7 linked regions of the Homo sapiens genome follow. The protein of the gene in region 4 purifies or fractionates together with the protein of the main gene of each other region. This does not show direct contact. Each region holds a gene or a part of one and is shown on either strand. Other genes may lie near its edges. The genes, in order: TSC22D3, CS, ESYT1, SYNJ2BP, FLOT1, PRPSAP1 and TOR1AIP2.

Region 1 (3,500 bases), on a different chromosome or scaffold from region 4:
GGAGTCCCACAAAGGAAAATTCTGCATCTCCATCTCAGGTCCCCTAATTTTCACTGGATTCTGTGATCTGGGGGACTAAGGGTGCCAAGCTCTTCTGAGCCCTGAGATGGTAGTCTTGAGCTTGTCCAAGAACTTATGAGTCAGCTTTGGATACAAATCATGCCTGCTGGTAATTCCCACACCACCTTTTTGACTTTGTTTCCCTGTTTCTCCTCTATTTCTTGGAGTGGAGAGCAGTGTCCCCACCTACTCACAGCCTGTGAGCCATTTACTTGATGGCAACACACGTGAGACAGGCTGGGGAAAAGACAAAGGAAGAGAAGAAGAGGAGCTATTGGTTTAGTTACAAACCTTGAGCTAGTGGAATATTAGATTGATGGGGGTATTCTGTGCTGTAGATAGTCACATTTGTTATTAGAGAAATCTGTCATAGAATCTGGCAATACTGACTTCACTGGGGGCTCAGTTCCACTAAGCCGGTAATGTAATTTTCTGAATAGGCCAGGCAGAGAGCTAAGAATCACTGTGAATTCAGGTCAACCTGGGGACTTTGAGACTTCATGGAGCGTGGACTGGGAATTGGCTCTTGAAAGGCCTTCCTTTAAACAGCTCCTCCACCTTCCGGTAAACCCTTTCACCTGGTGTCAGTCAGCCTGGAGTTTCCGCCCCCCCCCCAACAACTCCCCCCACCCCAACCCACCCAGTAGTTTCTGAACCAACAAGCAGATACAAAAGGAAGAGGGACTTCTGCGACCTGTTCTGGGGCCTCTCCATGCACCACGCAGTTTCTTTAGCAGTGCATTATCAGGTGATAGTAGGTTCCTCCCTGCCACCTCCAAAATGCCTCAAGCCAAATTAAGTCCACTCCAGCTTGCCTGTCTGCTTACATTTACTGCTGAGTGTGGAGGCTGAGTGTGGGACCGGGTCAGGCTTTGCTGCCTGGCATTTGCCTCTGAGCAGACTGCTTGCCTGACACTGGGGAGAGTAGGCTTTTCCTTGGGAAGTATGATGAGCTTGACTTGGACCCCCAGCAGGCTTCCAAATGCCTGTCCCCAGGGAAGCCTACCACTGAGCAAGCAGAAGTGTGATGCCTCAGTAACCTGGCTGTTACATAAGATGTGCTAGTTATGAGTCAGGGCCCTCAGGCTGGCCTAGGCCCAGCCTAGTCTGGGAGTGAGGCTAAACGGCAGCGCTGAAGGAGGGGTGTCTTGGGAGTGGGGTAAGCCAGGAAGGAGCTGCTGGAGTCGCTTCCTTTCCTCTCACTTCTCACCCCCTTCTTCCTTAGGGATAGCTCTAGCCAATCACCAGCCTAGATAGCACGGAGCGGGAATCCTGGCCAGACCCCTAAGCTGTGAACAGCTGCTCTCCATCTCCCCTGAAGAGAAGATTAGAAGAAGTGGGTTGAATACTCAAGCCTATTCTGTGAGTAAAGTCTTCCTTCGAGGAAGGATGGGGAAGGTCCCTGTGTGCTCTGTCCATAGGCAGGGGCCCGATTTCTGGCTGGACCTATTTGAGGAAAGTGGCTCCCAGGAGAGGAAGGCCAATGGTGAGCCTGGATCATCAGTGATCCAGCCTGCTTCCAGCTCTTGTTTTCCCTCGGGCTAGTGTCTGCACAATGGGAAGCTTCCCATTCAGTCTTCTGTGCTGGCTGGGATCTTAATGCCTCTTATACAGTTTCCAGAAGGGCCACAGCTACTTTGGGGCAGGAATTTTCAGCTAGAAGGTACAAGTGAACTTGCCTTGCCTACTGATGAAATTCCCTCCTGCCTGGAATAGAATCGAGAAAAGCTTGCTTTCTGCTCTCACAGATCGCATCTTAGCCCCACTCCAACTCTAGTTAAGCTGGATTTCAGCATGGTAGACAGTGGCCTCCAAAAGACATTTTCCCTGACCTGACTCTTCATCAAACCTAGGTTGCCCTGAAACTGGGATCTAGCCTTCTGGCCTTCATGGGGCTCCTCCTAGCCCATGGGGTTCTGTGGAGGGCCTTTTCTGCCAAAGCTGTGGTGCTACAGCAATGCCCTAACCCTTGTCCCATTATTGCAGACTTTGGGACAGCACAGTATGTTCTGGGCCATTATTGTTCTCTTTATTTAAAAGGAAATTTCATCTTTCTGACCCCTGTGGTCATGGACTCCTCTCCCCTGAGTTCACTGAGCACACAAAATACCCCATCAAATGAACCCATGTTTTAGTCTCAACTTAGCACATTGGTTTCTCCAGGGTTCAAGAGGCTATTGCACGATACCAACCAATTTGTTATATAAGCCCAGCCAGCCATGGCAGATTATGGCTTTACAGTTATCTCTAGGGATGGCTTACATAAGAAGAAGAGAAAGTTCAGGTAGGAGCAGAATCACGATGAGCAAACAGCGCAACAGCCACCACCAGGTGCAGACATGGCCAAACTCATTCCTCCCAACCAACCCACCCACCAGGTGGGGGCAAGAACTCTGCAGGGTTCCATCACCCGGGATGCCTAGAGGTCTTGGCAGTCTTGGCCAGATACATCCATCTCCATTTTACCCAGACTCCCTGGCCTTCAGTACCTGATCTGGAAAGGAGCCAACCCTCTACCTGGAATGGAGAGCTTGTTGGATTATCTGCAAGTGCAAATATAAGCAGGAGTGTTAACCTTCTCTTCAGGCAGGGAAGAAAACTAAGGTCACCCTGGAAAGCATTATTTGCTGAGGTGTGGACTCAGTAAATAATAGTCCACTCCTGGCAAAAACTGAGGAGTAGATGAAATTCAAGCTCTGTGCTTCCCACCTTTCTTTAAGAGCATGAACTTTCCAAACAGATCTTTTGAACTCTCATGCTGTCCAGGCCCCGTGCTGTAACAGCCCAAGCTAGGCCTTCCATGGACTCCAGCCCCATCTCTCTACCTCTCTCCTCCAAAGTTGGCTTTGCCACATTCCAGTCCCATAGGACCCTATTCCCAGTGGGCTGTCACCATGACCAGAGGTCTGATAAACAAATCCATACAAAGTAGTTAATGGCAAGTAATGGTGTCACATGTTACTCTTTAAAAAGGTATGCTAGACCTTGGCCATTCATGAGAGATACACACTAAAACTTTTGCCAGTCTCCAACTCATGGATGCAATCTCCAAAGCATGTCATTTCCCCCATAAAAAGTCCATTCCCAGGCAGCACCATCACTTTGCCAAACTTTGTAGCTTTCTCTTCGTTGTAATCACTAGCACCAGCAGCTGGCTTAGAGAGGGAGCATTCTCCTCAAGGAATGCCCTGAGACATTTGCTCATTTTATGACAGGTTCCTACGTATGTGTTGACTACGAGCAGTAGACCACAAAATTGTGTTGAAAAGTAGGTGCTGGGCAATGCCACTCCTAGGTATATACCCCAAAGAATTAAAAGCAGGGACTTGAACAGATACTTGTACACCAGTGTTCATAGCAGCATTCTTCATAATAGCCAAAAGAGGGCAACAACCTAAGTGTCCACTGACAGATGAATGGATAAGCAAAAGAGGTATATC
Region 2 (3,500 bases), on a different chromosome or scaffold from region 4:
GGTGGTGCGCACCTGTAGTCCCAGCTACCGGGGAGGCTGAGGCAGGAGAATCGCTTGAACCCAGGAGGCAGAGGTTGTGGTGAGCTGAGATTGTGTCACTGCACTCCAGCCTGGGCAACAGAGCGAGACTCCATCTCAAAAAACAAAACAAAACAAACAAACAAAAAGGCCCAGGGTGGTGGCTCACGCCTATAATCCCAGCACTTTGGGGAAGAGGTGGGCGAATCACCTGAGGTCAGGAGTTCTGGACCAGCCGTTCTAGACCAGCCTAGCCAACATGGTGAAACTCTATTAAAAAGACAAGGCCAGGCGTGGTGGCTTAAGCCTGTAATCCCAGCACTTTGGGAGGCCGAGGTGGGCAGATCACGAGGTCAGAGGTTCGAGACCAGCCTGGCCAACATAGTGAAACCCTGTCTCTACTAAAAATACAAAAAGTTAGCTGGGTGTGGTGGTGTGCGCCTGTAATCCTAACTACTCGGGAGGCTGAGGCAGGAGAATTGTGTGAACCCAGGAGGTGGAGGTTGCAGTGAGCTGAGATCGTGCCATTGCACTCCAACCTGGGTGACAGTGCAAGACACCGTCTCCCAAAAAAAACAAAAAAAAAAAACAAAAAAATTAGCCAGGAGTGGTGGTGTGCGCCTGTAATGCCAGCTAGACATGGTGGCATGTGCCTGTAGTCCTTGTTACTTGGGAGGCTGAGGCAGGAGGATCACTTGAGTCCAGGAGTTCAAGGTTACAGTGAGCTATGATCATGCCACTGCATCCTGGCCTGGGTGATTAGAGAGAGACCTATTTCTAAAAAAATAAAAATAAAAATGGCTGGGCACGGTGGTTCACATGCCATTTCACTCCAGCCTGGGTGACACAGCGAGACTCCATCTCAAAAAAATAAATAAATAAATAAAATGAAAAACAAAATATTAAGATTATATGACCTTTTGTACCTGCTAATGTGTGCAGGTACAAATATACACATTCATACCACCTAAAGTGTTTATAAATAAGCCTTTATAAATAAATGCTTTATGTGGTGTGAATGTGTATATTTTGCATCATTCTGATACCAACTCCCCAATGCCAACCAAGTTAATATCAATTTTAAATGCTCTCTGTCTTCCTCAACTGCAAACACAATTCTCTACACACAGTTGGTGCCAAATTAATATTGACCAACTAAATCAATCTAGATTTGCCAAGGACCCAAGGTGGTTGCATCAGAGCAGTGGGTCATGCTCTTCTGTGTCTTGCACCACAGTGAACTCTTTAGGGCCTTCCTGGTGGCTGGCACCTCCTGGCCAAAAATCATTTAATGTACCTGCTTTGTAAAAAGAAAATTTTCTGTTCCTATACTACCTATCTCCAAATAAGGAACAAAAGAAAATGGTACATTCTCCTGTAAACCTAGCCAGATCATTTGTACTTTTACCCAGTGTTTCTGAGTTTGTGGGGTACTAGAAGAGGATGGAAGGAATTATGTACTATGCATTGGGATAAGAAACAATCTTTCCATACCCCAACCAGCGTTGTAAACTATTAAGGACACTTTTCATTTTCAGAGAATAAAGCTCATTTGTTTCTGGATCTGGAGCCTACTCCAAGGATACTAACCACTCTCCCACTCCTGATGGGTATCTTAGGTTGGCTAGCCGAGAACATGACTGACTGGCATTAGTCCTCCTAGACTCCAGAGTTGCAATTGCTGTTCTCCCAACTTGTAAGATTTCTCAAAGTTTTCTGTATTTGAAGAAGATAGTGAGGGAAAGTGACCCTCTGGTGCTAGCATGAGACTGCTCTGTGAAACCTTCCTCAGGGACCCTGCAGTTAAGTCACATCCTTTTCTTTTCTTGTTTTCTCCTTTTTTATGTACAGATAGGATCTCACTATGTTGCCCAGGCTGATCTCAAACTCCTGGCCTTAAGCAATCCTCCCACCTCAGCATCATGACTCACTGGGATTATAGGTGTGAGCCACCTACCTAGGTCTCTTTTCCGTTTCAACAGCCATGTGTACATACCTCTGTTACAGCAAGACTATGGAATTTTTTTTTAGATGGAGTCTCACTCTGTTGCCCAGGCTGGAGTGCAGTGGTGCGATCTCGGCTCACTGAAACCTCCACCTCCCAGGTTCAAGTGATTCTTCTGCCTCAGCCTCCTGAGTAGGTGGGATTACAGGCGCCCGGCATCACGCCTGGCTAATTTTTGTATTTTTAGTAGAGATGGGGTTTCACCATATTGGCCAGACTAGTCTTGAACTCCTGACCTCGTGATCTGCCCGCCTTGGCCTCCCCAAGTGCTGGGATTATAGGCATGAGCCACTGTGCCCGGCCGACTATGGAATTTTAATAATTTCTTTTTTCTGCACGTGTGTCAGCCTAACCAAACAAACAGTCCTGGTGATAGAAACCATGCTCTACTTAGCTTTGTAATTCCAACAACTGACAAAAAACAAGCCTCCAATGAAAATCTGTTAAGTTAGTTTCTGATTAACTCAGAGGTAATTTTTCTAAAGATTCTGTATTTTTTCCCTCCCTTCACACTCAAGTCCTTTGAATCCCCATCACACACCGATCACCCCACCCAAATTTCCTACCTCCCAGTACTTGGTTCGGCTGATACCCTGTGCATATGCTCGGGCAAAGTTACTTTCACTGTTGAGGGCTGTAACAGCTGCACTGAGCTGAGACATGGGGTGTAGATTGGTGGGAAAGTTGTCCAGCATGGTGACCACATGGGAAGGCAGAGCTGCCCTCTTTGCCCACTCTTTTGAGAGCCAAGATACCTGTGGAAAAAGAGACAGTGCTCAGAACACCAGCAAGGACAAGGAAGGAGAAAAATAAAAAAGGACAGCAACATCTGAGTAAAGAAAACCCAAGAGAGGTCAACCCAATCCATTTATACAGCAGAACTCTGCTGATTCCTTCCCTTCACTACGCATCTCTATAAATGCCGGATCAGCATTAAGTGTCTGAGATTAGAGAAAGGCAATGAAGAAGGGGAATGAGAAGAGCTAATAATATCCTTCTGCTTTACCTGTTCCTCTGTTGGGATATGTCCAGTTACCAGCAGCCAAAATAAGCCCTCAGGCAGGGGTTCTTCCCCACCCTTAGCCTTGGGTAGCAGTTTCTGGCATTCAGGGATACTAAAGCCTCGGAAACGGATGCCCTTGAGAGAGGAGAGAGAGAATTACAACTCAAGTTTATAGCCTAGAAGTCACACGACTGGTCTTACTCATCAGACCTTACAACAAGTTAGAGTAGAACTTTTTATGTTAATTATTATTTCTGTAGAGGTGGGGTCTTGCTATGTTGCTCAGACTGGTCCCGATCTTCTGGCCTCACGCAATGCTCCACCTTGGCCTCCAAAAGTGCTAGGATTACAGGGGCAAGCCATCATGCCTAGCCCAGAATACAATTTTTAATTTTCTTTTTTTTTGAGACGGAGTCTCACACTGTCGCCCAGGCTGGAGTGCAGTGGTGCGATCTCGGCTCACTGCAAACTCCG
Region 3 (3,454 bases), on a different chromosome or scaffold from region 4:
CAGAGCGAGACTCCGTCTCAAAAATAATAATAATAATTTCTGAAAGTTTATGAGGTAAAGATGGTCCACTCTACTCTGGTTAAGAAAGGAAGGACAGGCCAGACACAGTGGCTCACACCTGTAATCCTAGCAATTTGGGAGGCTGAGGTGGGTGGATCACCTGAGGTTGGGAGTTTGAGACCAGCCTGACCAACATGGAGAAACCCCAGCTCTACTAAAAATACAAAATTGGCTGGGCGTGGTGGCAGGTGCCTGTAATCCCAGCTACTCAGGAGGTTGAGGCAGGAGAATCGCTTGAACCTGGGAGGCGGAGGTTGCGGTGAGACCAGATCACGCCATGCACTCCAGCCTGGGCAACAAGAGCGAAACTCTGTCTCAAAAAAAAAAAAAAGGAAGGAAGGACAGAGGGAGGGACTAGCAACTGTTACCATGGCTTCCCTGCCTTTCTCAAAGGGAAATCTCACCAAACCACCTATGAGTCCAAGCGTTTGGACCTTTAAAACACCAGGATTAACTCATTTGTTGATGCATTCGCCTCTTGATCATGGTCCTGTTGCCCCACAGGTTCGGGGTGAGGGCACTGGCGTGCTGGGCTCATTATCCCTGCCCCTCTCAGAGCTCCTCGTGGCTGACCAGCTCTGCTTGGACCGCTGGTTTACACTCAGCAGTGGTCAGGGGCAGGTGCTACTGAGAGCACAGCTAGGGGTGAGTGACAGGAGATGGTGGGCAGGATGAGAGGGAGGAGGGGAGGGCCTTCACAGGTGAGGGACACCCAGGAGGGTGGGAACAGAGGGCCGTGTCCTTAGAGTGAGGGAACTGAGAGAACTCTGCCCAGCTCACAGCTTTCTTGCCCCTAGATCCTGGTGTCCCAGCACTCGGGAGTGGAAGCTCATAGCCACAGCTACAGCCACAGCTCCTCATCGCTGAGTGAAGAACCAGAGCTCTCGGGGGGACCCCCTCACATCACCTCCTCAGCCCCAGAGCTCCGGCAGCGCCTAACACATGTTGACAGGTAAAGGGCTGGGACAGGAAGGTGGGACGCAGTCAGAAATAAAAAGTATTACAGGTTCACTAGGCTCTAGCTTTCCCCAGACCTACTGATATTTCTCCACAGTCCCCTTGAGGCTCCAGCCGGGCCTCTGGGCCAGGTGAAACTGACTCTGTGGTACTACAGTGAAGAACGAAAGCTGGTCAGCATTGTTCATGGTTGCCGGTGAGACCCCATCCCTCCTGTCCTCCAGATCGCCTCCATCCCTTCCCTCAGGTTACCATATCACCTACATCCTCCTGTTGTAGGTCCCTTCGACAGAATGGACGTGATCCTCCTGATCCCTATGTGTCACTGTTGCTACTGCCAGACAAGAACCGAGGCACCAAGAGGAGGACCTCACAGAAGAAGAGGACCCTGAGTCCTGAATTTAATGAACGGTCAGTCAGTGGGCATTCAGGTGGAGAGATGGCAGGCTTGGAAAGGACTCCTGGCCCCTAACATCCAGTCCTACCCCAGGTTTGAGTGGGAACTCCCCCTGGATGAGGCCCAGAGACGAAAGCTGGATGTCTCTGTCAAGTCTAATTCCTCCTTCATGTCAAGAGAGCGTGAGCTGCTGGGGAAGGTAAGAGGGCAGGATGGCAGGGCAGAGGTGAGGGCTGGAAGCTGCTGGCACCAAGGTTATAGTCCCTGTGAGGAAGGAAGTACCCCACGTGATCCTTTAGAGGTGACTCACCTCTGCAATGGTTTGGGACGAGTATGTGATGAAGGAACATGGTCTTTGGAGATTTCAAAACAGCATCATCAGAATGAGATCCTGTCTCAAAAAATAAAAGAAATAACATCTTTCCCCTATCATCTTCCAACACAGGTGCAGCTGGACCTAGCTGAGACAGACCTTTCCCAGGGTGTAGCCCGGTGGTGAGTGTCTGCGTGGGTGGGGGATGGTCTGGATATTTCAGTGGGAGAAATTCCAATCACAGGAAAGGAAAAAAAGATACAATCTGAGCAGAGAACCATTGATTCTATCAAGTAGAGAAGCCCTTGGATCGTGTCTCATTTATAAATATGATGACACAAGAGTCATCTTTCTACATGAGCCCTCTTTTCACAGGTATGACCTGATGGACAACAAGGACAAGGGCAGCTCCTAGGAGCTGGCGAGTCCCAGCCTGACTGCTCTGTCTTCCTGCCTTCGTCTCGCTCCATCACCGCCTCAATGTGATGAGCCTAAAGCTAGGGTCCAAGGGCAGAGCCTGTGCCCTTCAGCCCTTTCACCTAACAGGCCCATATTCGGGCCTTTGCCTGACCAAAGAGAAGAACCGTATGTTCCCTTTACTGCACGGCCTTTATCCTTCTGGGCCCCTGGGGCGGGGACCTGAGCTGGCTGTTTCCTGCTTTGCCTGCACATTGTTCTCCCTTCCTCCCAACTCCTCAGGGCCTTCTGTATCTGTGCCTGGCCAGTGGCAGCACTAGCAGTGGTATTAGCTTATGCCAAATACAGCTTTGGAAGGATCTTTTTTTCTTTAACTAGATGGTCACCTTCTTCCCTACCACACATGGGTGGGAAGGTGGACAGGCTAACCTCTCCAGCTGTGAGCCTCTTAGACTACTGCATGTAGCAAATGTTCAGCAGCTCAGGCCCCCATGTCCAGTTCTGTCCCCACTGTCCTCAACCCTGTCCTGAAAATTCTACTGCTTTGATGGCTGGGGCCAGTCTCTTGTCACTTTGGAAACTGAGGACGCGTGGATTCTACTCAAGCCTCCAAGTAGTGGCATATCAGTCTTGGAGCTCCTAGCTGGTGATACGGAGAGGGCTTTGGAGGACTTGGGACAGCAGGGCCAATTTTTTTGCCCAAGTGCCTAGGCTGCTAACTCACTGACTAGAACTTAATCTGGTACTTTACAGTTTTGCACCAACTCTGCCAAGCCACTGGATCTTACATTAAACATCATACTCAAACCAGCTGTGGTTCTTTTCCTTAAGGATAGGGAATCAATCTACCCATCTGATGTTTATTCCTACTGTCAAAAGCCTTTATCCAATTCGTGAATCATGTCAGTTTAATTAATGGTCAAAGCCTACTAAGGTTGCAGCCACCAAGAATGTTGAGGATGGTCAAGAGACCTGTGTAAAGTAGCTGCTGTTGCATTTCAGGTGAGACTCATTTCCAGTCACAGTGATGAACTCTGTTACCCATCCAACTTGTCTGCTGACCACTATAGGCTTTCCAGGGAAGGGATTCCTAAACCTGGTAAACCTGGGAGCTCTGTGCCACTGCACAGGCTCCTGGTGTCTCTGTGCCACTGCACAGGCTCCTGGTGTCTCTGTGCTGTCAGGGCATGCTCAGCTACATTCAAAAGGGCTTCAGGCCCATCTAGCAGGAGCTGAGAAATACACCCATTTCGATCATCTGTACACCTTGAACTCTGCTCCTTGCAAGAACTTTCCTGGAATGCAAGCTA
Region 4 (3,500 bases):
AATATTGTTCTTCTAAGATTTTTAATTAGTTGCTTCAGTTATTACATTTTTTTCTATTTTTTTTTTAAATAGAGATGAGGTTTTGCTATGTTGCCCAGGCTGGTCTCCTGGACTCAAGCAATCTCCCACTTCAGGCTACCAAAGTGCTGGGATTTACAGGCATGAGCCACCTCTCCCAGTCTCAGTTATTATTTTAATAAATGAGACTGAACGTCCTCTTATAAGGCTCACTCCCTTGTTCCTACTACATTTGCTCTGTTTAAGTATCTCTTTAAATTCTTCAGTTAAGATCATCCCTTTTATCAGAAACCTAGACACCACAAAGTAGCTTTCTCACCTTTAATTCTCCATAGGGATCACTATTATACTATAATATTTGCATACGTATGTGTATATATGTATTTGCTTTTTTAAAAAAGTAAAAATGCTCTTCTCACTCTTTGTCGATATAGGCACCCAGGTACGTAGTTAGAAATTAAATAAAGGCCACAATAATTTCCCAAGGAAGATCATTAAAAAGAAAAATCCTTTCTTCCTCTAATATCACATAGCTGGCCTTTATGGCATGCCAGCTAAGAAAAAAGGTATTGCCTATGGTGACAGGAAGACTCAATCTTTCTCTCTTTGGGTTGTAGCTGAATTTCTATCAAAAGTCCTAGTAAAATATATAACTCCTCATTTGTTCTAAGCCAAGTCTTTTCTTCAGTTTTCCTTCAAACAATACCTTTACTTTCCCATTAGAATATGAAGAATTGGAGACTGTGAACAGCAAGGTTTGGGGTGGGTATCAGTCACTTCAAATCTGGCTATGCAGAGAGAGGGAAAGACATGGCAGAATAGCAGGGGTGGAGGGTGAGTGAAATGTATCTTCATTGGGAGTATTGAAAGAGAGCAAGTTTTTCAAAGTTGTTGCCGGTATCTCATGAAAGCCCAGGCTGCTACCATGGTGAGGGCAAACACTGGCACCAGCACCATAAATATGGGAATACCACTTGGGTCCCCTTCACCTCGATGTCCTATAGGTCCATTCTGCACCTGTAACTGGAAGGGAAAGAAAAATGTTAACTCTAGTGACTAATGTGTGTTTGCAACTGAAACGCCCAGGTTGATACATCACCTGGGTTTGTAGACTCTAGACCACCCAAAACTGTAACCCCCAGCAATACCTAGCAGAAGGAGTCCTCTCTTTGTCCTGAGCTGATGCATCAGTGTCACAGGATCTTTGGAAAGAAAATAGGTCTAATGGGGAGGCATTTAACCTTGCTGACCTAAAGGGACCCGTGAGGGCAAGTCAGGTAATTTCTGTTTCTGTACTGCCTCTACCTTGCTATTTGTGTATCGTATCAGGAAAATGAAGACATGAGATAAAACCTATGATCTTATAGGGAACTTGGATATTACTTGGTGAGGAAGAAGGGGGATCTTTCTGGAAATGTTTACTTAGATAATCAGTCATCAAAATGTAGTAAGAGCAGATGTGGGCAATGTCAACATAGGTGCAATACCAACATACGTCCAATGCCATTACTTGAAAAATGCTTTCCAGATCCCAGAAGGCACCCAACTCCCTCCAAAGATGGGGTTTTGCCCTTCATCTGCTCATTTCTAATACTAGAGAGAGATGAAGGTGAATCTATATGGAACAGATGTAAAAAAGCAAAAAGAAATTATATCCTAGTGCTTATAATTTTCTATTGGCTAAGTGTTTCCTTTTGAGGCTGGATGGTCTTCATTTTAGTGATGGTTTTCAGGGTAGCTCTTCTTAATATCAACTTTTAGTGGCTAACTTGCAATAATTATGGCATCATCGTATTTCAGTTAAACTGCCTCATTACAACTCATAAAACTGACACTTCAATCTGAAAGGCAAGACTGCATGAAATACCATTATACCCTCTATTCCACCTCTATGTTTTTCATTCATTTGCTGATGAGCTGTCCTGAAAGGACATGCTCAATAAGAAGGCATGGTTTTTAGGGCTAGGCCAATTGCCTGAACATAAGGGTCTTTTTTATTAGGAATTATTTATGGATGTTTCCTTAAAAGTGAACACTGGAAATAACTTCTCACATACCTTCCAAAAGAATTGTAATCATATTGAAGTGTGTCCCTATATTTACTTGTTTTTATCTACTGCACAAATGCTCCCATGCTTTAGAAAGAGAAGAGCCAAGGCAGAAGCAACTGATGACCAATATTATCTCTTATTAACCTGTTTTCTAATCCATTACACCCAGATTCTGCTTGCAACTGGTTGTTTTCTCAGGTATCTTTCACGTTCTGCCTTCTCTACTTTTTTAGGAACTCCTCTAAATGTTCTTAAGCTTCTAAATCCTTAGCCACTGAGTGAGGAAGAGTGCACCTATTTAAGAAGTAGCAAATTGATTTAATTTAAAGGCACATGGAACCTGTTTTGTGAATATGCTCAGAAATTCTCAATGCTATAGGAGGAATTATATCTACCCAGGCTTCCCTTTACATCATCATCCAAATTATAAAACACTTGGAAATAAGAAACAGATGCAGGGATAGGTGCTGCCTTGACTGAATTCTGAATTCCATTTCCTTTTTCCTGGAGTTCTCCTATGAACACTAAAGATTTGGTTAAGAGGGTCACCAAGTTGATAAATGAAGGGTTCATGGCAGTGACAGGGAAAAGCATATAGTGGGTACCAGAAAACCCACCATCTTTGTAGTGTTTTATCCAATGGTTTTATAAATAAGTTTTCAGCGGTAGACATATGGTTCCTTCCCTACCAAAAAGTAAAATTGGCTACGTTTTTTTACCATCTTTTTAATTAATTAATTTATTTATTTTCCATTGGTCCATGTCACTCTTAAAATTTTTTATTTATTTTTATTATTATTTTTTTAAGAGATGAGGTCTCTCTATGTTGCCCAGGCTGGTCTTGAACTCCCGGGCTCAAGCAATCATACCACCTTGGCCTCCCAAAGTGCTAAGAGTACAGATGTGAGTCACCACACCTGGCTTTTCTTTAATCATCTGTTTTAATTTGGTTGTCAAGCTTTATCTTTAAGGCATATTATCTTGAAGCAAGGACCTTGGTTATAAGCCATACTGTTGTGAATTTCTCTTTTTTTTCTCTTTTTTTCTTTTTTTTTTTTTTGAGACAGGGTCTCACTCTCTTGCCCAGGCTGGAGTATAGTGGTATGATCTTGGCTCACTGCAACCTCTACCTCCTGGGCTCAAGCAATCCTCCCACCTTAGCATCCCAAGTAGCTGAGACTACAGGTGTGCACCACCGTGCCTGAATTTTTTGTATTTTTAGTAGAGATGAGGTTTTGCTATGTTGGCCAGGCTGGTCTCGAACTCCTGGCCTGAAGTGATCCGCCCACCTTGGCCTCCCAAAGTGTTGGGATTACAGGTGTGAGCCACCGTGCCTGGCCTGAATGTCCTTCAATGATAAGCAGAAGTACCAATGGACCCCTCCCTTTGCCTGAGAAACTCTTCAGGGGAGTGAGGGTAAAACAAAAAGCA
Region 5 (2,739 bases), on a different chromosome or scaffold from region 4:
TAAATGCTAGGCATACTGTGTCACACAACACAGGAACCTAGCAATTCTCCTCAGCTCCAACCTGAGACCTCACCTGGGAGATGCTCACGCCTGTGAGTCTTTCCACACTCTCTGGCAGGCGAGTTAGAATGTCCAGTACTTCCCCAGTCACTTTGGCTGCCCCCATGGTCCCACTGCCGCTGGACACCAGTGTGATCTTATTGGCTGAAGTCAAGGGACCACTGATCTCCTCTGCCACCTGGCAGGAGAGAGACACCCACTCAGTGCCCATGATCTGACCACATTCCTCATAAAACAACTTACTCTGGGTTTTAAGGTCCTCGTTCCACTGATCATCCTTCCTCACTTTGGTCACTAATAATTCCCACCCCTAATTTAGAGTCCCCCTAGGCTGTTTCTCCCTAAGCCCCTCACTACACCCCACCCCTTAGTCCCTGGTTCTATTTCCTCCTTTCTTGGTGCCCACATGACCTCCAGACCTGGGGCAGCTTCTCTAGCAGCATGTCCAGCTGAGCAGCCTCTTGGTACAGCTGGAAGGCTTCTGCCTTCTTGGCCATCTGCTCAGCCTCGGCTCGGGCTCGGGCCCCTATGGCAAAGGCCTCAGCTTCCCCACGCATCTGAGGGTTAAGGATGCTTGTGAGATTGACGGAAATCATTAAGAACAAGAAATCCCCGATCAAGCAGCAACCCCCACCCTCTCCACAAGCCAGCATGGAACTGCCTCTTAACTCACCCGCACAGACGCGGCTTCTGCCTCCGCCTGCATAATTAGTTGGGACCTGTGGACAGAAGGGAAGTGGAGGGTGGAGCCCAGCAGCCCTTACTCCCAGGAGAAAGGCCCAGTGCTGCAGAGGCAGACGCTCCTGAAACCTGAAATCCATAGGAGTCCAGGTGGTGAAGGCTTCAGCACTCCATCTTGGGGTGCCTAGGTGGCAAGTGAGCTAGGCAGGGTCAGGGAGGGGACATTTACTTCTCTGCCTCGGCTAGGCGCTCCAGCTTGTAGCGCTCCGCTTCCGCTGGCTTCCGCACCCGGGCCTCCAGCTCCTTCTCCCGCCGGGCGATCTCCTGCTCCTGCACTGCCACCTGCTGGGCCCGCTCCACCACCTGCACCTGCACCCGCTGCTCCTCAATCTGCTGCTTAGTCTTGGCCACCTGGGTAGGAGGGTGAAGTCAGGTTCACGCTCTGAGTCAGAGGTGAAGAGCAAGTGCCCGGGAACCAGAGCTCCAGAGTGGGATATAAAAATAGGAGCCGGTGGCCGGGCGCGGTGGCTCACGCCTGTAATCCTAGCGCTTTGGGAGGCCAAGGAGGGTGGATTGCCTGAGTTCAGGAGCTCGAGACCAGCCTGGCCAACATGGTGAAACCCTGTCTCTACTAAAATACAAAAAATTAGCCAGGTGTGGTGGCGAATGCCTGTAGTCCCAGCCACCCGGGAGGCTGAGGCAGGAGAATTGCTTGAACCTGGGAGGCGAAGGTTGCAGTGAGCTGGGATCACGCCACTGCACTCCACCCTGGGCAACAGAGTAAGACTCCATCTCCAAAAAAAAAAAAAAAAAAAAAGGAGCAGGTGCATGAAGGTGGGTTCCCTCCTGTCTGCTTGGCCAGTCCAGTGGAGTCCAGTGTTTCTCTGATGAGCCCCCGTTTAATCTATTTTTCCCACGTGTGCCCCCTTCTAGAGTATAAATACCTTGAGGGCACTGAGCACATGTTGGCTTTCTGCTATCTCCAGTCTTGCTCAAATCCCCCCACTGTTGCTGCGATAACCTTAGTGCTAGCCTAGGCTACTGCAATAGCTGACTTATTTTTTGTGGGGGTGGGGACAGGTGATCTTTTTTGTCTTTTGCACATGGTGCAGATTTAACAGAAAAAAAAGTGAACCACGAGGCTTCTTCCTCATTCTCCAAACCACCTGGGTCCCTTTCCCAGAGAAACCACCAAGACCAGCTTCTTGTGTATCCTTCCAGGGATACTCTGAACATCTACAAGAATGTGTGTATTCATAGAATTCCTCTTATTTAGGCAGATTTCTTTCTTTTTTTTTGAGGCAGTTTCGCTCTATTGCCCAGGCTGGAGTGCAGTGGCACGATCAGCTCAGTGCAACCTTCACCTCCCAGGTTCAAGCTAATCTCTTGCCTCAGCCTCTCAAGTAGCTGGGACTACAGGCATGTGCTACCATGTCTGGCTAATTTTTGTATTTTTTTTAGTAGAGACGGGGTTTCACCATGTTGGCCAGGCTGGTCTCAAACTCCTGATCTCAAGTGATCCATCCGCCTCAGTTTCCCAAAGTGCTGGGATTACAGGCATGAGCCATCGCACCCAGCCTAGATTTCATCTTCTTATTCCTTGCAGTGTGAGGGAATCAGAAGGCTCTTATCAAGATGCTAGTGAGGAGAGGTGCCAGGCAAGGAACACATTTTTTTTTTCTTTTTGAGACATCATCTTACTCTGTCACCCAGGTTCAATGGCGTAATCATGGCTCACTGCAGCCTTGACCTGCCTGGGCTCAGATGATCCTCCCGCCTCCCCCTCTAGAGTAGCTGGGACTACAGGTGTGAACCAGCACACCCGGCTATTTTTTGTACTTTTTGTAGAGACAGGGTTTTCTATGTTGCCCAGGCTGATCTCAAACTCCTGGGCTCACGTGATCCACCTGCCTCGGCTTCCCAAAGTGTTGGGGTTACAGGCATGTGCCATCACACCCAGCCAGAACACATGCCTTCGTTGTCCCATTGCTCAGGCTC
Region 6 (3,469 bases), on a different chromosome or scaffold from region 4:
AAAAGCATTTAATACGCCTAACCTACTAAACATCATTAACTTGGCCTAGCCCTACCTTAAACATGCCCAGAACAGTTACATTAGACTGCAGGTGGCAAAATCATCTAGGGCAAAGGCTTTCATTTTATAATAAAAGCGATTATTTTAAAATAAAGTGTCTCAAGTAATTTATCGAATACTATACATTACATCGTAATTGCAATGGTTTTGCATCATCATAAAGTCAAAAACTTCTAAGTTGAACCATGGTAAGTCGTGGACTATCTGTATTCCTAAACATGTATCTGTCCCAACGAACTGCTAGCCAGCAAAAGCTAGAAAAGCTATAGACAGATTAAGCAATTTAGTATTGACTGAATCATTTTATTATTCCCAGAAAACACAGCAGTAAATCTTGGCTCAAGATTTAGAAGCAGCCTGACCTCGTCTACGGAGGACTCCTCAATCAGGCGAGGGGCCTCTGCAGACAGGATGCCGTGGGTGGCCATAACATAGATCTTATAGGCGCCTCTCTCTTTCAGGATCTCCGCGGCAGCAACAAAACTCTCCACATCGTCAATAATGTCATCCTGGGAGGAGAACAGAGTGAGTTGGTAGGAAAGAAACACCCTCTAGCCCATACTGTCAATGCACACACCACTCTACTCTCTTCTGCACTCAGTTTCAGAGGATTTCTGATGGAAAATCAGAGCTGTGTGCCTGGGTCAAAGAACGAGCATCCAGAAATGGCAACAGAAGCACCTGACAGTACCTTGTGTGTCTGTCAGAGGCGGGCGCAGTCAAGCACCTGTGACATTACGGCTGGAGCTGAGGATTGCCAACACTCATTTTCCTGTCTCACGTTTCTGGTGAATCCCACATAGCCAGCGTTCCATTTATTTTTTTTTCAAATAGACTGTGACATGAGAAGAAAACTGAAATAAAGTGTGCTACTGCAAAGGACTCATGACCCACTAGCCAGCAGATATTTAGAGCTGGGAAAAAAAGTATGTCAACATGCAGAACGAGTCTGCACGGGGACACCCATTCTTACTTGTGAAAACGGAACAGCTCATCTTCAGTTCATCTTTCGGCCCTAACGCTCAAGCATGATTAGGTGAGCTGGTTTAAAGAACCTAGAATCCACATGATGAAGGTGAAGGTGCTGAATTTTCTCACGGGAGTACTGTGCTCATTTCCTATCTGTAGGTTATACTTTAATGTATGTTCACCTGGATACAGGTTTCTGCCACTTGGCACAAGGGAGTTTGGGTGAGAAAGGATACATGGATCCATTCGGATCATCGTTCCTAGAAATACAGTCCCAGAGTGGACAACCTACTGACCAAGAGCCAGGAGTGCCACCTCTGCACATGGATGACATATAACCATACCACGATGATTGCGATGCGGCCTCCAACATCTCCAACTACAGTTATCGGTGGCTTCTCTTTGGCCATCATCACTAGCAAAACAAAACAAATTACAAGATCTCAGTCATTCATGTATCACTAGAGAAATGTAATCACAACCTAATTCCCTGGAAATGGTGGCAAAACCACTATACAGACAAAAAACAAACAAACCATGCAAATTCCCCCTCAATGAACCTGCAATCTCTCAGAAACAGCAGCATTGGCCAAAAGAAATAGAAGGCATGCCATACATGTTACTTTGAATTTTCTAGTAGCCACATTAAAAACAGATGAAATTAATACATTTTATTTTATGCAATTCCCAAAATATTATAATTTCAACATGTAACTGATATAAAAATGTATGTATGTATGTATGTATGTATGTATTTTTTGAGACGGAGTTTTGCTCTTGTTGCCCAGGCTGGAGTGCAATGACGCGATCTTGGCTCACTGCAACCTCCGCCTCCCAGGTTCAAGCAATTCTGCCTCAGCCTCCCGAGTAGCTGGGATTATAGGCATGCGCCACCACACCCAGCTGAGTTTTGTATTTTTAGTAGAGATGGGGTTTCTCCACGTTGGTCAGGCTGGTCTCGAACTCCTGACCTCAGGTGATCCACCCGCCTCAGCCTCCCAAAGTGCTGGGATTACAAGCTTGAGCCACCACGCCCAACCTGATATAAAAATTAATGAGATGTTTTACACTTTTTTTTCTCAGAGGGGATCTTGCTATGTTGCCCCGGCTCATTTCAAACTGGAAGCAAACAATCCTCCTACCTCAGCCTCCCAAAGTGCTAGGATTATAGGCATGAGCCACCGCACCCAGCCTTACACTTTTTTCCTATCAAGTCTTCTCTACTTGGTGTGTGTTTTATACGCACAGCACTTCTCAGTTGAGACGGGCCGTGTCTCATGAGCTCAGCAGCCAGCACATTGCACTGCACAGCACAGCTGGAAAGACAACGAACCAGCAGAGCATGGAAGATTCTGCCAACACGGAGAAGCTGCACCGCAGTGCTGTGTGGATAGAAACCCCACTCTCACAGAGACTGACAGAGACATGCAGAAGGAATGCCGCTCTGCAGAAAGCGAAACAGCGAAAGGCTGCCAGATCATGAGATGGCTTTATGTTATTTTCTTCCAAAGTCACCTTATTTGGACAGTGTAACCTTACTATCAGATAACTGCACTACTGACATAATCAGAGTTTCCTCAAAATCAGGAACTTGAAGACAATAACTCCAGGCCCATCATCTTTTCCTGATTTAATTGGTGCTTAAAGTAGAGACTTTTATCTGACTGCAAAATCTGCATCTGAAGAAAGGCTATGAGTGTACAAAGGAAACTACAGGATAAAGAAAGGAAATAAGATTTTATCCTCAAAAGGAGGTTAGTAAACAGAGAAGAAAAACAAAGACTACTTCAGAAGAACAGGCTAAGTATTCTTTCTTTAAACTTTGTTATTATTCTGAAATATTTATTAGGCTAGTAGTGGGGGAAGCGAAAGAGAATAAAATTCAGGGTAACAAGAGTTTAGTGACTACCAACAAACAATTTTTGCAGATTCCCAACAGGCACTGTGTATCTCAAAGAACAGGTGTTTTTCTCTGTATACTGGCAAATCAGTTGAGCTGAAATTCACCACTACTTTATACATTTCAACAAACATATATTTCCTGATTTCACATCCTAGAAACAAAGACAACTTCTTGAATTTGGGCAAGACAAGAAGGCTTTGCATATAAAATCACTTAAAATGGGGGGAGGGGGGTTTCAAACCACCAACATTAGGAGCAGCTTCCTGAGATTCTGTTTTTAAATTAAACCATGTAAACACGCAGTTATGTTGACCTATCCGCTTTTTTTTTTTTTTTTTTTTTTTTTTTTTCTTGAGACAGAGTCTCACTCTGTCTCCCAGGCTGGAGTGCAGTGGCACGATCTCGGCTCACTGCAACCTCTGCCTCCTGGGCTCAAGCGATTCTCCTGCTTCAGCCTCCTAAGTAGCTGGGATTACAGGCACGTGCCACCACATCTGGCTAATTTTTTGTATTTTTAGCAGAGGTGGGGTTTCACCA
Region 7 (3,500 bases), on a different chromosome or scaffold from region 4:
TACATTCATTTATTTTTTCATAAGCTTTTAAGTTAAAATATGGAGTTCTTACTATACACTAGGCACCGTGTAGGCATTGGGGATCAAAGTTTTTAATGTGTAAATTTAAATTTTACAAAAGAGTACTGAGAAAAACATAAAGACGGCCAGTTGGCTAGCCTTCCAGCTAGGCTGTCAAAAAACTATAACACTTCACACAGGTTTTTCTTATATATTTTTGTATTTAAGCCTCATAGATATCATTATTCTCATTTTCATAGGGAATAAATATTAAGTAACTTTATTGATCAATTTGTTTTTGACAAAAAAAAGAACTATAAAATATGACTGTTTTTATTGCTTATAAAGTGCCTTTGATTTTGATTCCTTTTGTGTAAACCTTAATAATTTTCTTTGTCTGTCTTTGAGCATTGCATAAAAAGGCATTGTATAAAGGAATATCTGTCTCCATATTTTACAAAAGAATACTTCGAGAAAACCACTTCAAAGTCAGTCCAAATGTGTAGTGGTACACCTCAAAGCAGCCATCTCAGTTTGTGGGAACCTCCTGTGCATTGTTACTTTTTAATATAAGTGAAAGCTCCTGATAGGCAGACTATGAGAAAATTATCTGGGACAGAAATTGAAGACATCCAGGAAATCTGCAGTGATTGTTTCAGCAATGACTTAAATTTCTACTCTTAGATTTATTTTTTATTTTAATTCAAGCTAGTCTGTTGAAGATTCTGGTCACTTGATCTTACTTTTTATACTCTTTCAACTATGCTGGAATATATTAGATTATGAAATTCATGAAAGATTAATAATCTGGAGCTTTTTTCAGTAGTCTAGGATTTGGAATATGATTCTCATGAAAGGAAATTTTCTTCACGAAAAAAGTTTCACAGAGGAAATAGTACTCAAGCTACACATATTTAATAAATAAAGCTGATACTTGCATTTCTCCCTTGTATGGATAAAAAGTCATTTAATTTTTTTTCATTTTGTTTTAGTCACTGTATATATGCCTTATTTCCTGGGTCCATGGGAAGCATGAGTCTGTTGGGACTTGGGACAAGAAGAAAACAAGACATCTTCACAAGGAAAACCAAGTACTAAAAAAAGTATCCTCCCAACTCTGAAGAGATAGAACACAAACATGGCCGACAGTGGACTTAGGGAACCTCAAGAGGGTAAGACTGATTTGTCTGGCACTGAGGTTGCTGCTGTAGGAAACCAGGGGTGTGCAGAGAGAGAAAATCTCTGATGACTAAAATCTGAGGTTTTGAAGTAAAAAAGCTAATTCAGTGGGTTCATTTGTTTTGATTATACTTATTCTTTCAAATTTACTGAATTTTACTATAATGCGAGACCCTAATTATAATATAAGGAAGATAAATGTTTTAGAGACTCCAATAGTAAGGACTTATAGTAATGGAAAAATACAATGCTTCTTTAAAAAATGATGGTAGACAAATCTTTAGAGTTATATATATCCTGTGATGTGCTATATTTAGAAGGTATCTTTCTTCTTCCTCTTCTTCTCCTTTTTTTTTTTTTTATGTTACCCAGGCTGGAGTGCAGTGGCGTGATCTCAGCTCACTGCAACCTCCGCCTCCCGGGCTCGAGTGATTCTCATGCTTCAGCCTCCAGAATAGCTGAGATTACAGGCGCCTGCCACCACACCCAGTGAATTTTTGTATTTTTAGTAGAGACGGGGTTTCACCATGTTGCCAGGCTGGTCTTGAACTCCTGACCTCAGGTGATTCACCTGCCTTGGCCTCCCAAAGTGCTGGGATTACATGCATGAGCCACCACATCTGGCCATTCTTACTTTTATTAAAGAAACAAAGTCTTTTGGAATTTCCCACGTGCTGGGTTTTGCTGATTATATTCTTGAGGCATAATTTAATGTATTCCTGTATCCCTATATTTCTTGGAAACTGGTTGCTCTAGAAACTTACCAGATTTAAGTTTAGTTGTTTGGCAAAAATACTTCCCAAGTGGTCTAGAGTACTTCTTACTGCATTGTATTAGAAAGTAAATGATATCTGTTTGGGTTTCCCTGTTTTCATGATGTGAAGATTGGTCGCTGGGTTCAGCAGTTGTCAGTCTGGCTCATCCACTATAAAAGTCCCTATCAGCCTTTTGCATAAGGTTTTGCTACCATTGATGAGCATTGCCTTTCATTAGGGAAGAGGATATATTTAATATAGCCAAAAGTTTGTTCTGTCATATAATTTGTTTTATATTAGTGTCATTTTATATTTATTAACATGATAAGATTTTTTTTGTTGTTGTTTTAATTGCCTTTAGTGGGAGCCAAGAGAAATAATGTTTAGGAAGTGTCTTGTAAACCATGAAAATCTATGTAAATATTATTATTAAACAGGGACCTTGTTAAAATATAAATTTATGGGGAATTTTTTCCAATAAAAATTATAAACTTTTATCTCAATAGACTCTCAAAAGGATTTGGAAAATGATCCATCAGTAAATTCTCAGGCGCAGGAGACCACAATCATAGCAAGTAATGCTGAAGAAGCTGAGATCCTACACTCTGCCTGTGGTCTTAGCAAAGACCACCAAGAGGTAGAGACAGAAGGTCCAGAAAGTGCAGATACAGGTGATAAATCAGAAAGTCCAGATGAAGCAAATGTGGGGAAACATCCAAAGGATAAAACAGAAGATGAGAACAAGCAGAGTTTTCTGGATGGCGGAAAAGGGCATCACCTCCCTTCAGAAAATCTGGGTAAAGAACCCTTGGATCCAGATCCCAGCCATTCTCCAAGTGACAAGGTAGGAAGAGCAGATGCACACTTAGGGAGCAGCTCTGTGGCCCTCCCTAAGGAAGCGAGTGACGGAACTGGAGCATCTCAGGAACCACCTACTACAGACTCCCAGGAGGCCCAGAGTCCTGGTCATTCCAGTGCAGGGCAAGAGGGTGAGGATACACTGAGGAGGCGACTGCTGGCCCCAGGTAAGAGAACCCCCTGAACTACTCTCCTGTTTTGTACTGCTCTGTTAACTGAGAACACAGCAGAAGTCAGAGGCCTTCTTTCCAGAGAACTTTTGTCATCTTTCATAGGAGTAAGGCCTTTGGGCCTTGCCCAAGCTCACACCAAGCCATGACTGAGTTGATTTTAGAATGAGGTTTCTCATCTAGGCTAGCTCATTCCACTATATTAAGTTGCTTCCTACACATAAACTGCATTTCTAAGCATGTTTTTATTAACTGTTTATATTAATGTGATATGACAAAAAGGGGCATGACTTTTAAAAAATTCGCTTCTGGTTTTTTATTTCTTATGAGAATATTTCGACTTACAATTTTTAAAATCTTTTACTTTTTGGGAAACTAAATGTTACATAAATCAAGAGATGGGTATATTTAAAAATGAGCATTAATGGGACAGTATCCTTAACTCAGTCATGTTTCAGTTTTATAGGACTTTGAGTAAGACAGTTAGTTTCTCTATACGTGGTTTTTTCTGCCTATATGTTAAGAGGAACAAGCATGT

Evidence for each region.
Region 1: the proteins of SYNJ2BP (region 4) and TSC22D3 purify together in Homo sapiens (affinity purification with mass spectrometry; one large-scale study listed by BioGRID and IntAct). This does not show direct contact.
Region 2: the proteins of SYNJ2BP (region 4) and CS purify together in Homo sapiens (co-purification; one study listed by BioGRID). This does not show direct contact.
Region 3: the proteins of SYNJ2BP (region 4) and ESYT1 purify together in Homo sapiens (affinity purification with mass spectrometry; 4 studies listed by BioGRID and IntAct, with this or other methods). This does not show direct contact.
Region 5: the proteins of SYNJ2BP (region 4) and FLOT1 purify together in Homo sapiens (co-immunoprecipitation; 2 studies listed by BioGRID and IntAct, with this or other methods). This does not show direct contact.
Region 6: the proteins of SYNJ2BP (region 4) and PRPSAP1 purify together in Homo sapiens (co-immunoprecipitation; 2 studies listed by BioGRID and IntAct, with this or other methods). This does not show direct contact.
Region 7: the proteins of SYNJ2BP (region 4) and TOR1AIP2 fractionate together in Homo sapiens (co-fractionation; one large-scale study listed by BioGRID). This does not show direct contact.

Annotation. Positions count from the first base shown.
Region 1 is NC_000023.11:107,765,788-107,769,287, forward strand, and holds part of TSC22D3 (TSC22 domain family protein 3), read right to left. Parts: intron 1-3,500. UniProt on the Homo sapiens protein: Protects T-cells from IL2 deprivation-induced apoptosis through the inhibition of FOXO3A transcriptional activity that leads to the down-regulation of the pro-apoptotic factor BCL2L11.
Region 2 is NC_000012.12:56,279,831-56,283,330, forward strand, and holds part of CS (citrate synthase, mitochondrial precursor), read right to left. Parts: intron 3,162-3,500; coding exon 3,030-3,161; intron 2,779-3,029; coding exon 2,590-2,778; intron 1-2,589. UniProt on the Homo sapiens protein: Key enzyme of the Krebs tricarboxylic acid cycle which catalyzes the synthesis of citrate from acetyl coenzyme A and oxaloacetate.
Region 3 is NC_000012.12:56,141,721-56,145,174, forward strand, and holds the end of ESYT1 (extended synaptotagmin-1), read left to right. Parts: intron 1-564; coding exon 565-705; intron 706-857; coding exon 858-1,012; intron 1,013-1,114; coding exon 1,115-1,213; intron 1,214-1,296; coding exon 1,297-1,428; exon of another isoform or gene 1,429-1,507; coding exon 1,508-1,613; exon of another isoform or gene 1,614-1,805; intron 1,806-1,859; coding exon 1,860-1,909; intron 1,910-2,102; coding exon 2,103-2,142; 3' UTR 2,143-2,954; downstream 2,955-3,454. UniProt on the Homo sapiens protein: Binds calcium (via the C2 domains) and translocates to sites of contact between the endoplasmic reticulum and the cell membrane in response to increased cytosolic calcium levels.
Region 4 is NC_000014.9:70,372,091-70,375,590, forward strand, and holds part of SYNJ2BP (synaptojanin-2-binding protein), read right to left. Parts: intron 1,042-3,500; coding exon 901-1,041; 3' UTR 1-900. Other genes in the region: SYNJ2BP-COX16 protein, read right to left, coding at 943-1,041. UniProt on the Homo sapiens protein: Regulates endocytosis of activin type 2 receptor kinases through the Ral/RALBP1-dependent pathway and may be involved in suppression of activin-induced signal transduction.
Region 5 is NC_000006.12:30,729,949-30,732,687, forward strand, and holds part of FLOT1 (flotillin-1), read right to left. Parts: intron 1,153-2,739; coding exon 971-1,152; intron 780-970; coding exon 734-779; intron 618-733; coding exon 480-617; intron 239-479; coding exon 74-238; intron 1-73. UniProt on the Homo sapiens protein: May act as a scaffolding protein within caveolar membranes, functionally participating in formation of caveolae or caveolae-like vesicles.
Region 6 is NC_000017.11:76,312,448-76,315,916, forward strand, and holds part of PRPSAP1 (phosphoribosyl pyrophosphate synthase-associated protein 1), read right to left. Parts: intron 1,445-3,469; coding exon 1,374-1,444; intron 570-1,373; coding exon 423-569; intron 1-422. UniProt on the Homo sapiens protein: Seems to play a negative regulatory role in 5-phosphoribose 1-diphosphate synthesis.
Region 7 is NC_000001.11:179,850,304-179,853,803, reverse strand, and holds part of TOR1AIP2 (torsin-1A-interacting protein 2), read left to right. Parts: intron 1-992; 5' UTR 993-1,138; coding exon 1,139-1,172; intron 1,173-2,440; coding exon 2,441-2,959; intron 2,960-3,500. UniProt on the Homo sapiens protein: Required for endoplasmic reticulum integrity. Regulates the distribution of TOR1A between the endoplasmic reticulum and the nuclear envelope as well as induces TOR1A, TOR1B and TOR3A ATPase activity.